Regions from separate parts of the Homo sapiens genome. Here region 2 is linked to region 1. Evidence: fine-mapped expression QTL. A gene starts in region 1. The other region holds a variant in brackets. All regions are shown on one strand. Distances are from middle to middle. Region 1 holds the start of NGDN (neuroguidin). Region 2 has its middle 13 kb from the start of MYH7.

Evidence for each region. PIP is the estimated chance that this variant, and not a neighbour inherited with it, causes the effect.
Region 2: its variant is the best candidate, but not a certain one, in a credible set for the expression of NGDN in lymphoblastoid cells (CAP, PIP 0.76).

The regions. Positions count from the first base shown.
Region 1 is chr14:23,466,819-23,472,201 of GRCh38, reverse strand. It overlaps NGDN (neuroguidin), which reads right to left and starts at 2,499. Exons shown (of 11, transcript NM_001042635.2): 1 at 2,475-2,499; 2 at 2,101-2,160; 3 at 1,225-1,296. The coding sequence starts at 2,486. RefSeq lists an enhancer at 1,796-2,736 and a silencer at 2,823-2,872.
Region 2 is chr14:23,446,007-23,451,389 of GRCh38, reverse strand. No RefSeq gene overlaps it. Among named protein-coding and RNA genes, the nearest start is that of MYH7, 13 kb to the right of the region's middle. The variant T/C (reference allele first, on the strand shown) is at 2,373.

The sequences.
Region 1 (5,383 bases):
TTTTTTTTTTTTTTTTTTTAAGACAGTCTCACTCTGTTGCCCAGGCTGCAGTGCGATGGTGCGACCGTGGCTCATGGCAGCCTCGACCTCCTGGGCTCAACCGATCCATTCACCTCAGCCTCCTGAGTAGCTGGGACTACAGGCACACACCACTGCGCCCAGCTAATTTTTTTTTATAGAGATAGGTCTCACCACATTGCCCAGGCTGGTCTCAAACCCATGGGCTCAAGCAATCCTCCCACTCTGGCCTCCCAAAGTGTTGGGATTACAGGCGCATATTTCAATTTTAAGATGCACATGGTTTTCATATTTTAACATCTCTGAAATCAGGATGCATGTTTCAGTCACTGGCATCTTGGTATTATGTCATAAGCAATTTTTTTTTTTTTTTTGAGACAGGGTCTTGCTCTGTCACCCAGGCTGAATGCAGTGGCACAATCACAGCTTACTGCAGCCTCAACCTCCCAGGCTTAAGCAATCCTCTGGCCTCAGCCTCCTGAGTGGCTAGGACTACAGGCACATGCCATCATGCCCGGCTAATTTTTAACTTTTGTAGGGTCTCACTATGTTACCCAGGTTGGTCCCGAACTCCTGAGCTCAAGCGATCCTCCAGCCTCAGCCTCCTGAAGTGCTGGAATTACAGGCATGAGCCACCATGCCCGGCCTGTCACATTTTTTCTTAATATATACAATAAGTGATATGTCCCAATTAATAAGTGTCTTAGATTAGATGAAATCTGAAAGTAACTCCTCAGTTGGCCTACAGTAATCTTCAGAGTGACTTTTCCAGTCTTATTTCCTACCCCCAACACACATAACACAGAAAGTACATCCTATCACAAAAATGACTTACTCCTTTCCCTTATCACCATACTTTCAGGCCTTTGTGCCTTTGCACATGTTCCTTCTTTCTGTCCCTCCCATTTATTCCTCAAAATCCTATCACCTCCTCTGGGAAGCCTGTCCTGAATCCCTCTGCTCTTCTGGCAGTTAATTAATCCCTCTCTTTGGCTGGAGACTCATAACTCTGTAATGTGACTGCTACTATTAATACTTACATCTATTGCTTTGCTTTGTCTTCCCTCTAGACTTCAGCACAGAAACTGGATCATATTTATGTTTGAAGCTCGAGCACTTAGGATATATAAGACACAATAAACATACAATGAAAGAACTACTGAGAACATTAAGTCAGGGGATGCTTACTGTTTGAGTACATCTTACCTTTTCTGTAGGATAGGCACCAGCTTGAACTTTTTGTGTCAGTGATTTCACTTGTGCAGTTACAGCCATCACCTGAAATTAGCCCAAATAAAACAAGTGATTAGATTATATCAAATTATGTCTGCAAACTGTGAAGAGCAAAAGCTAAACAATGCCACCTAAAAATTATCTGAAACACTGTCTAAAGTATAGTACTATCTTCTCACTTCTCGGAAAGCATAGGAGAGATGGTTCTTCAAAAAGTTTAAAAAAAAAAAAACTTTCCACTTCTTAAAGAAGAGACCATCTTTTACTGAACCACAGGGAGGAGAAAAGGACTGAGAGAGTAGTGACTGAAGCACTGTAATTTTGTTTGTACTAGTTGAACTTACAATGCATAGAACTACATAACTCCCCGACTTATGACTTAATTTCCACTTTACGAGGGTGTAAAAGAAATATGCATTCGGTAGAAACCGTCCTTTTCTCGTGATGCTGGGCAGCGGCATCAAGCCTAAATTTCGACTTATGAGGTTTTCGAATTACAATGGGTTTATCAGGCCATAACCTCCATCGTTAAGTCGAGAAGCATCTGTATATAAGTGTGTATTACCTGGGCACCCAAAGGGCAAGTCATGTTACCATTCCAAGCACTGGTTTCCTTAGCTATATGAATAAAGGAAAACTATTCATATAATTTCTTTTTGGAGTTTCTTGTATTCCCTTGGGTGCAGAATCAATTACTTAGAATTCTGGCGTGAAAAGGTTTTGATTACATCATTTTACTCTAAGGTTTTTGGAAGCATTCACGTATCTCAATCACCAAAGTTTTGAGGTGAAGTACACAAACTCAAAGCCAATCCGTGACTAATTTATTCCAGAGGCGACACTACTCACTTGCTCCTGGAGATTTTTCAGAAGTGTCACGGCACTTGGCAGGTCGGACTCCAGCACCCCCTACAGAAGGGAGAGGAGGCGTAAAGAAAAGTCATTCTTTCCTCAGGATTATAGGAAAGTGGAACGTCTAGGGTGGGAAACTGCCCTCTCTCCGTCAGACACCCAGACTCGGGGCCTTCACACTCGGGTTCACAGACTCGCCTTAAAGCCAGCCCCTTGGGTTACCGGACAGGAACGGTAACTCTAGGGAGGCCGCCTCCCTGAAGCAACTTTCATCACCACCCTTCCCTGGTACCAACAGTTTGCCTCCAGCCGCTGAAGGCAAAGGACAACTCCACAATAGCTACGCGAGGAAGAAACCACACCAAACTCACCAGCGCCGCCATCTTCGCAAAGCCCACCCCTTCCGGTGTCGTACTTCCTGAGCGCTAAGGGCGACTTGATAGATTTGATAGACAACTGCCGCTTGCAAATCTAAGCCAATACGAATAAGGGCTTTCTCACTTCCGCCCCCAACAGGATAAACGAGAGGAGGAGTCTGATCTGGCCAATGGAATAAAGGAACTGGCTAAATTCGTCAGACTCAGAAAGAGTCGTCAGGACGAAAAAAAGCACTTGGCAAAGAGCGTGTGATTGGTAGACTGAGTAAAATGATTGACGGCAAGCCAATAAGAGACAGTCAAATAATTGATTGACAGTTGGAAGGACCAATAGAAAAAAGGAATTAGCAGAGCGAACTTAGCGCGTATTGGCTCCCGTCTGCCGCAGCACCCAGAGTCTTTTTTCACGGCACTTTTCTTGTAGTGCGTGAACCGGCCGCTAGGTGATGGGCCTTGGCTTGGCTTTGCGGTGTCGACATTGCAGAGCCGCCATTGCTGGCTGCTCATCCAACGGCCACCGCGCCAAATGCCTTACAGACCCGGTGGCCCTGGAATCGATTCTGTAACACTACTCCTTGTGTGACCGTGGACAAGTCACTCGGTCTCTGAGCCTTCTTCATCTGTAAATAAGAGAGCGAGGCTAGAGAAGCCCAGAGCCAGAGTTTAGAAACCGAGTGCGAGGACACCTGCCCTCTTGGTGTGCACTGTGGAGCGCTGAGAAACGGCTCCAATAACGCCCCGACACTCTTCGCTCCTACCAGTTTGGGGACATGAAAAGAATACGTTTTACAAATTGGGGAACGGTTCATATTTACATGACTTACCGCGGTCACACAGGTCTTCAGCAGAACTTGGTTCAAACTCTGGCAGTGCATGTTTCAGTATAACCTGCCTCATCATTACCCAGTGCTTTCAGATGTGTTCTCTCACTCTGGTTTTTCACAAGCTGGTGAAGTAGGTTGGACGGATACTCATTGTTCCCATCCCATGCCTTAGGAAATAAAGCACCGAAAGGGTGAATGATAGTGTATAATTTTTTGTTCACAACTCGTCCAACAGAGCTGGGTCTAGAAATCAGATCTTACCGACTTGAAGCTGTCTTTTGGAATTAAGAATAACACCTGTATCTGGGCAGGTGAGGTAAGGAAATCCTGGTATCTAGATCTTGCTGGATTCAAGAAGGCAGGAGGGTGTTCAGTCCCCACTCCTCTAACATTTAATTTGCTGCTTCAGGCCCACTGTGGAAGCTCAGGATGCTGTTGCAGCATACTTAGTCAATTATCCAGTAGCTTTTGTAATGTTTTATCAAGATTTGTATTATGAAAAGTTTCTATTTCTACATAAATTTTCGGACCTGTCTAATTAGATCAGCAATAAACTTTTCCTTTTCGGGGAATTTGAAATTTAGTTTGTTCATATGCTTTATGATAGCAATGAGAAAACAAATTGCACTGCCATATTTTGGGTTTTTTTGAGACCGAGTCTCGCTCTGTTGCCCAAGCTGGAGTGCAGTGGCGCGATCTCGGCTCACTGCAACCTCCGCCTCCCGGGTTCAAGCGATTCTCCTGTCTCGCCCTCCCGAGTAGCTGGGACTACAGGCACTTGCCACCACGCCCGGCTGATTTTTTTTTTTTTTTTTTTTTTTTTAGTAGAGACAGGGTTTCACCATGTTAGCTAGGATGGTCTCGATCTCCTGACCTCATGATCCACCCGCCTCAGCCTCCCAAAGTGCTGGGATTACAGGCGTAAGCCACCGCGCCCGGCCTTTTTTTTTTTTTTTTTTTTTGAGCGGAGTCTCATACTGTTGCCCAAGCTGGAGTGCAGTGCCGCGATCTTGGCTCACTGCAACCTCTGCCTCCCTGTTCAAGCGATTCTCCTGCCTCAGCCTCCTGAGTAGCTGGGATTACAGGCACCCGCCACCATATCCAGCTCATTTTTTGTATTTTTAGTAGAGACGGGGTTTCTACTAAACCATGGTTGGCCAGGCTGGTCTCAAACTCCTGACCTCACTATCCACCTGCCTCGGCCTCCCAAAGTGCTGGGATTACAGGCATGAGCCACTGCTCCCGGCCTTGATTATTAAAATAATTGTCCACCAGGAACGGTGACTTGAACCTGTAGTCCCAGCTACTCTGGAGGCTGAGGCAGGAGAATCACTTGAGCCCATGTCAAGGCAGCAGTGAGCCATGATCGTGCCACTGCACTCCAGCCTGGGTGACGGAGCAAGACCCTATCTCTAAAAAAAAGGTGAAAGAGGGAGACCCCATCTCTAAAAAAATAAAATACTTGTCAACTATAGGGGCAGAAAAGTGTGATACCTTTCCTCACCCATCATAAGGGTCATAGAAGACACTCCTATAACAAAAGAAGTTAACAAGAAAAAAGTTTGATGAATTTATTGAAAGTTTTACATGACACGGGAGCCTTCAGAAATGAAGATTCCATTTTTATGGTTAGGTTTGATGAAGAATGGACAGCGTGTAGAAATGTGATAGGACAAAAAGAGTATGATCTGACAGAACTAGACTGAGGGGGGAATCCCAGCAAGGCCTGTCTGTTCAGATTTTTCTTAGCCTCTCTAGATAGCAATCCTTTGGGGTATAGGGAATGCGAAAGGAAAATAACTTGGGACCCCAGTTCACTATGCCAAAAGAAAAAAATTAAGCTCAACGGAGTCATGCAAGCAACTGCCTTTGCTATTGTTCCTAAGCGGATAGCTACAGATAAAATGTTAAATATCTCTACAAGTATTTACTGTGTGTTCACCTTATCTTGTGTGCCGATTTACTGAGCCTGAGACAAATACCAATTGACTATTCCCCTACCTGCTCCTTTTCTCTTGCAACATGTGGATTAATGTACCCTCCCTCTTTCTCCTCCAGCCTACTTTTCCCCTTTTAATA
Region 2 (5,383 bases), 21 kb after region 1:
AGTTGCACTAGACACATTTCAAGTACCCAACAGCCATGTTTGGCTAGTGACTACCACACTCAGTAGTGTAGCCCTAGGGGACACAAAGATGAAAATATTACAGTTCTCAACCCCAAGGACCTCATATTCTGGTGCCATCAACTTAAGGAAACTGAAGCGGTGTAAGAATAAGCAATATGCTAACAATGAAAAGCAACAGCAGGAAAAAAAGCCACAATGATTGTAAATTAATGCTTTCAAAGAGTGGCTATATGTAAACATATTCATAATTTTTGACTAAGGAATTCGTCTCCTAGAATTTGTTCTATTGAAATCATTCAAAATAAAAAGAAGCCATGTGTACTTATGTTTAGAGATACTTTATTTATAAGTTCAAAAAAACTACAAACAGGGAGTCAGTGGGAAAGAGGAGTAACTGCTAATAGGTATGGTATTTCTTTTGGGGGTGATGAAAATGTTCTAAAATTTGATAGTGGTGATGCTTGCACAACTCTGAATATACTAAAAACTACTGAATCGTATATTGTAAAATGGTAAATGTTATGGCACATGAATTATATCTCAATAACAATGTTATTTAAAACTATAAACAATCTAAATATCAAACAAGTAAATGTTAATATTTTTACTCAGAAATAGCAAATGAATAGCTCCGTAGCTCCATTTATTGGGCATTTACTACATGCCAGGCACTATTCTGAGCACTTTACATGCATTAATTCAGTGGTTCTCAATGTGTGGTCCTCAATCCAGTAGCATCTGGTATGCAAATTCAGGCATCCCAGGCTGGAGTGCAGTGATGCAATCTCGGCTTACTGCAGTCTCCACCTCCCAGGCCCAAGTGATTCTCCTGCTTCAGGCTCCCAGGTAGCTGGGATTATAGGCATGCACCACCACACCAGCTAATTGTTTTGTATTTTTCATACAGATGGGGTTTCATCATGTTGATCAGGCTGGTCTCAAACTCCTGACCTCAAATGATCTGCCTCCCAAAGTCCTGGGATTACAAGCATGAGCCACTGCACCCAGCCAAGAAAATGTGTCCTAACAAAGCTTCTGTGTGATTCTGCAGCATGAACAAGTTTGAGAATCTCTGTATGTATTATGCCATTCTTGCATTGCTATGAAGAAGTACCTGAGACTGGGTAATTTACGAAGAAAAGAGGTTTAATTGCCTCACAGTTCTGCAGGCTTTACAGTATCTGCTCAGCTTCAGGGAAGGCCTCAAGGAACTTTTACTCATGGCAGAAGGCAAAGCAGGAGAAGGCATGTCATATGGCAAGAGCGGGAGCAAGACAGGGAGAGGGTGCCACACGCTTTTAAACAATCAGATCTTGAGAGAACACACACACTATGGTGAGGACAGCACCAAGGGGATGGAGCTAAACCATTCATGAGAAATCTACGCCCAGGACCTAAACACCTCCCACCAGTCCCCACCTCCAACACTGAGGATTACATTTCAACATGAGATTTGGGGGGACACATATTTAAACTATATCACTGTATTAAGTTATCTGACAGCAAACCCATAGGTTAGCAATATTATTATCCCCATTTATGAAATATAAGATTGTAAGAATATGAAATGCTAATTGGTGTTTTATGAGATTATGTACATATATATCTACACACAGCAGCCATACAAAAAATATGTATTATACACATATACACACCCCTTGGAAAGAACTGAACAAAGGAGAATAATGTGATTGGGTAGGAGATCTTGGGTGTCATTTTTGTAGTTGTAAAGTTTCAACAAAGTTTGTTTTGTGTGTTTCAGGGTCAGCTGTGTTGGACTGGCAAGTGCTTTCAAAGGAGAGCCACTGAGCTGTGCCTAGAAAAGCAGCCAGAAAAAGTCCCGACAAGGTCAGGGACTGAGAAAGCCCAACCTGGGGTGAGGGTGCTGTCCATAGACCAGTCAGACCTGGGGGGAGACTGTGAAGGGATAAGGTGGGGCAGTTGGGCCAGCTTATGGAGGGTCTTTAAATGCCAGCCAGAGGAGTCCAGGCTTCATCTTAAAGACAACAGGGAGCCCTGGAAGTTTCTATGAATGACAGATATGTAAGAGGTAGTGCTTTAGAAAATCAAGTCTGCTAGCCATCTGGTGAAATGAGCCTCTGGAAGACTAGTTAAGGTGCTGTTGCAATTATGCAGACGTGAAAAAGGGGCTTGCCTAGTGTTTTTCAAGAGAATGGAAAAGAAAGGAGGAGGCGGGACATTTCGAAGGTGGAATCTGCCGAATAGTATAAATGTAACTGAGTACCTTTCTCCTGGATCCCTTCCCCTTTCTCTTCTCTAGTTCCCAGTTTCTCTAGGTAGGTTTCTTCATTCTTTACCTGTGACCACAAGTCTAGAATCTCTCATGCAAA[T/C]GAATCAGAAACTAAACGTTGCTTTCCCCCAAGAATCACTGGTTATGCCACCTATTCTATAAAATCAGATAGTATCATGATCTCTTTTAATACACATTAATAGCTGCTCAGTGCCTATAGATTAAAGTCCAAACTTCCTTAACTTGGTTCAGAAGGTCCTTCATGACCAGCTGAACCTGCCTTCTAGGCTCTTCTCTTGTCATATTCCCCTGATTACTCCCATACTTTAGCCATTCTGAATCAATTTCAGTTCCTCTTGGGGCTTTGGACACGCTGGCTTCTCTGCTCAGCTCCTTCTTGACATATTCTGATATAATTTGTATCTGTGTCCCCACCCAAATCTCATATTGAAATGTAATCCCCAATGTTGGAGGTGGGGCCTGGTGAGAGGTGACTGGATCATGGGAGCAGATTTCTTATGAATGGTTTAGCTGCATCCCCCTTGGTACTGTCCTCACGGTAGTGAGTGAGTTCTGGTGCCATCTGGTCATTTGAAAGTGTGCAGCGCCTCCCCTTCTCTCTCTTGCTCCTGCTTTCACCATTGTGACGTGCCTGCTCCCTCTTTACCTTCCACCATGATTGGAAGCTTCCTGAGGCCTCCCCAGAAGCAGATGCCACTATGCTTCCTGTACAGCCTACAGAACGGTGAGCCAATTGAACCTCTTTTCTTTATAAATTACCCAGTTTCTGGGATTTCTTTATAGGAATGTGAGGACGGACTAATACATATTCCAATTTATCCTTTAAGTCTCGCCTAAAATGGTGTTTCTTCCAGACAGCCTTCCCTGATCGCCAGTCCAAATCACGTGGCCTTGCTTCATGCTCCCATGGCATCCGGACTTTGCCCTTCATAGCACCTGGTACTTCCTCCATTATAGTACCTGTTCTGTTATATTGTAACCACCTCTGTGCTTGTCTGCCCTGCTACGGTGTTAAAGTAATTGAAATGGACACTGGGCCTGAGGAATCCCTGAGCAGGAAAAGCCAGTTAGGCCTCTTAAGTGATCTTAACCTTGCTTGATTTGTGAACATAAGTGAAACTTAACTTGGGCTATTTCTTGTAAATGCCTATGTTAAAGAAAAACAGAACTTAAGCTCAATGAATCAGAAGCAACCAACAAACTTATAATTATGTGACTAGGGACTTTCTAACAGGACAGACCAAATAAGACAGCTGTATACCTGTAACCAATCAAATGTTTTATTTGCCTTACTTCCATGTTCCTCCTGTAAAAGCCTCCCACTTGTGTACCCTTAGTGGAGCCCCCCAGCCACTTCTGGTTTGGAGCTGACTGATTCACGAATTGCTGTTTGCTCAAGTAAACTCTTTTAAATCTTATGTGCCTCAGTTAATCTTTTTAACAACATTATTCTGTGAGCTCCCAAAGTCAAGACTATGCCTGCCACAAAGCTGGTGCTAATCAATGTTGGTGGAATGAATTCCTGGGGTGTGGTAAGCTGTGTTCCTGTTAACTGGAGCAGAACAGTAGGCCTGGAAGGACCTGGGATCTGGAGTTAGACAGGACCCAGTGAGATGGGGCAGATCTCAGAGAATATTCTCATTGCAGAGGCTGGAAGGATGTGGACTAGCCTGGCAGCAGATGAAAGGAGGTAGTCTATTAAAGCAATCAGAATCAGGAAGATGTTCTAATAAGAGGGCACTGGAACAGGTTTGGAAAGCCAAGCAGGCCATAGATAGTAATAGATACATTCACTGTTAGTGAATTCACTGTTTCTTAGAACATGTGCCTGTAACTTCATATACATAATCCTCAAGATAAGTATATGGAGTAGGTATTGCCATCCACATTTTACAGATAAGACTGAGGTTTAGAGCTGGGATTCAGAGCAAGATCTTCTTGGTTCCAGAGCCTGTGCTCTTTCCTCTACATTAGTGCTTCTTAAACTTTAATGTGCACAAAATCACCTTGGGTTCTTGTTAACATGCTAATGTCTCAATAGATCTAGGCTGGGGCCTGAGGTTCTGCAATTCTAACAAACTCCCACTGATGCTGATGCTGCCAGTCTATGGATTATATTTTGGGTCATAAGACTGCACATGATACTGCATGTTTTTTCTCAGAGAGGGTAAATGACACACCCAGGTCACATAGCTGGTTCGTGGTAGAGCCAGGATTTTTTAACCTAAGTCTGACTCCAAAATCTATGTTCTTAGTTATCAAAATATGCTATCTCCTTCTATGAGCAGGAAACAGTGCCCCTGGCTTCTTGGCTGGGGCTTAAGGGAAAAATCTAATCCCTGAGAAGTAGACAGGGCCAGGAAGACGAAGAGGGTTACCAAGACAAGGCCTCTGGCAGAGGGAACCAGGGCTCAGTTACCGGCCTGCGGCACAGGGTGGGGCCCAAGTCTTAGGAACAAGATAGAAGCTGAATTTCTAGAACTAGGGCACAGCAGCAAGAGTGACGATGCTGAGACTCCAAGTGTAGGCCAGAGCCCATGCAGGTCCTCCTCCTGGGTTCTCACATGCATCCAGGGACAGGGGCAGGACTGGCCCTTCAGGTATAATGAGGCATGGGAGAGGGGAAGTAGGACACAAGGGCTGGGAGCCAGGCCACTCCTCATATTTTCTTCCCCAGGATTCTTGGCACTGCCCAGAGAGGTGAGGCCTTCCTGAGGCTCACCTTTGGGGCTGTAGACCCCACTCCCTGCACTTCCCTTTCTCACCCTCCATTCTCTTGATTTCAAGCCTTCCTCCCACCTTTGGTCCTCCACATGCATGCTCCCTGTTTGCAAGAGAGGATGGTTCCATATCTCAGGCCCTTATCCTACTGACAGAGCTGTCAGGAGCCATAATAATTATCTTATATTTTTCTTTCCTTTTTTCCATCCCACCTTTTCCCTTTGATTGGGCAGGGCACACAGTGGGTCTCTGAAAAGGCAGAAACTGGGGAATTAGTATTGGCTTCGTGTGGGGCCCGCAGTGGGGAGGAGGGGGAGCAGCACAGAGCAGAATGAGAGTAGAGAGTTGGGCGTTTCAGTTGCTTCTGGT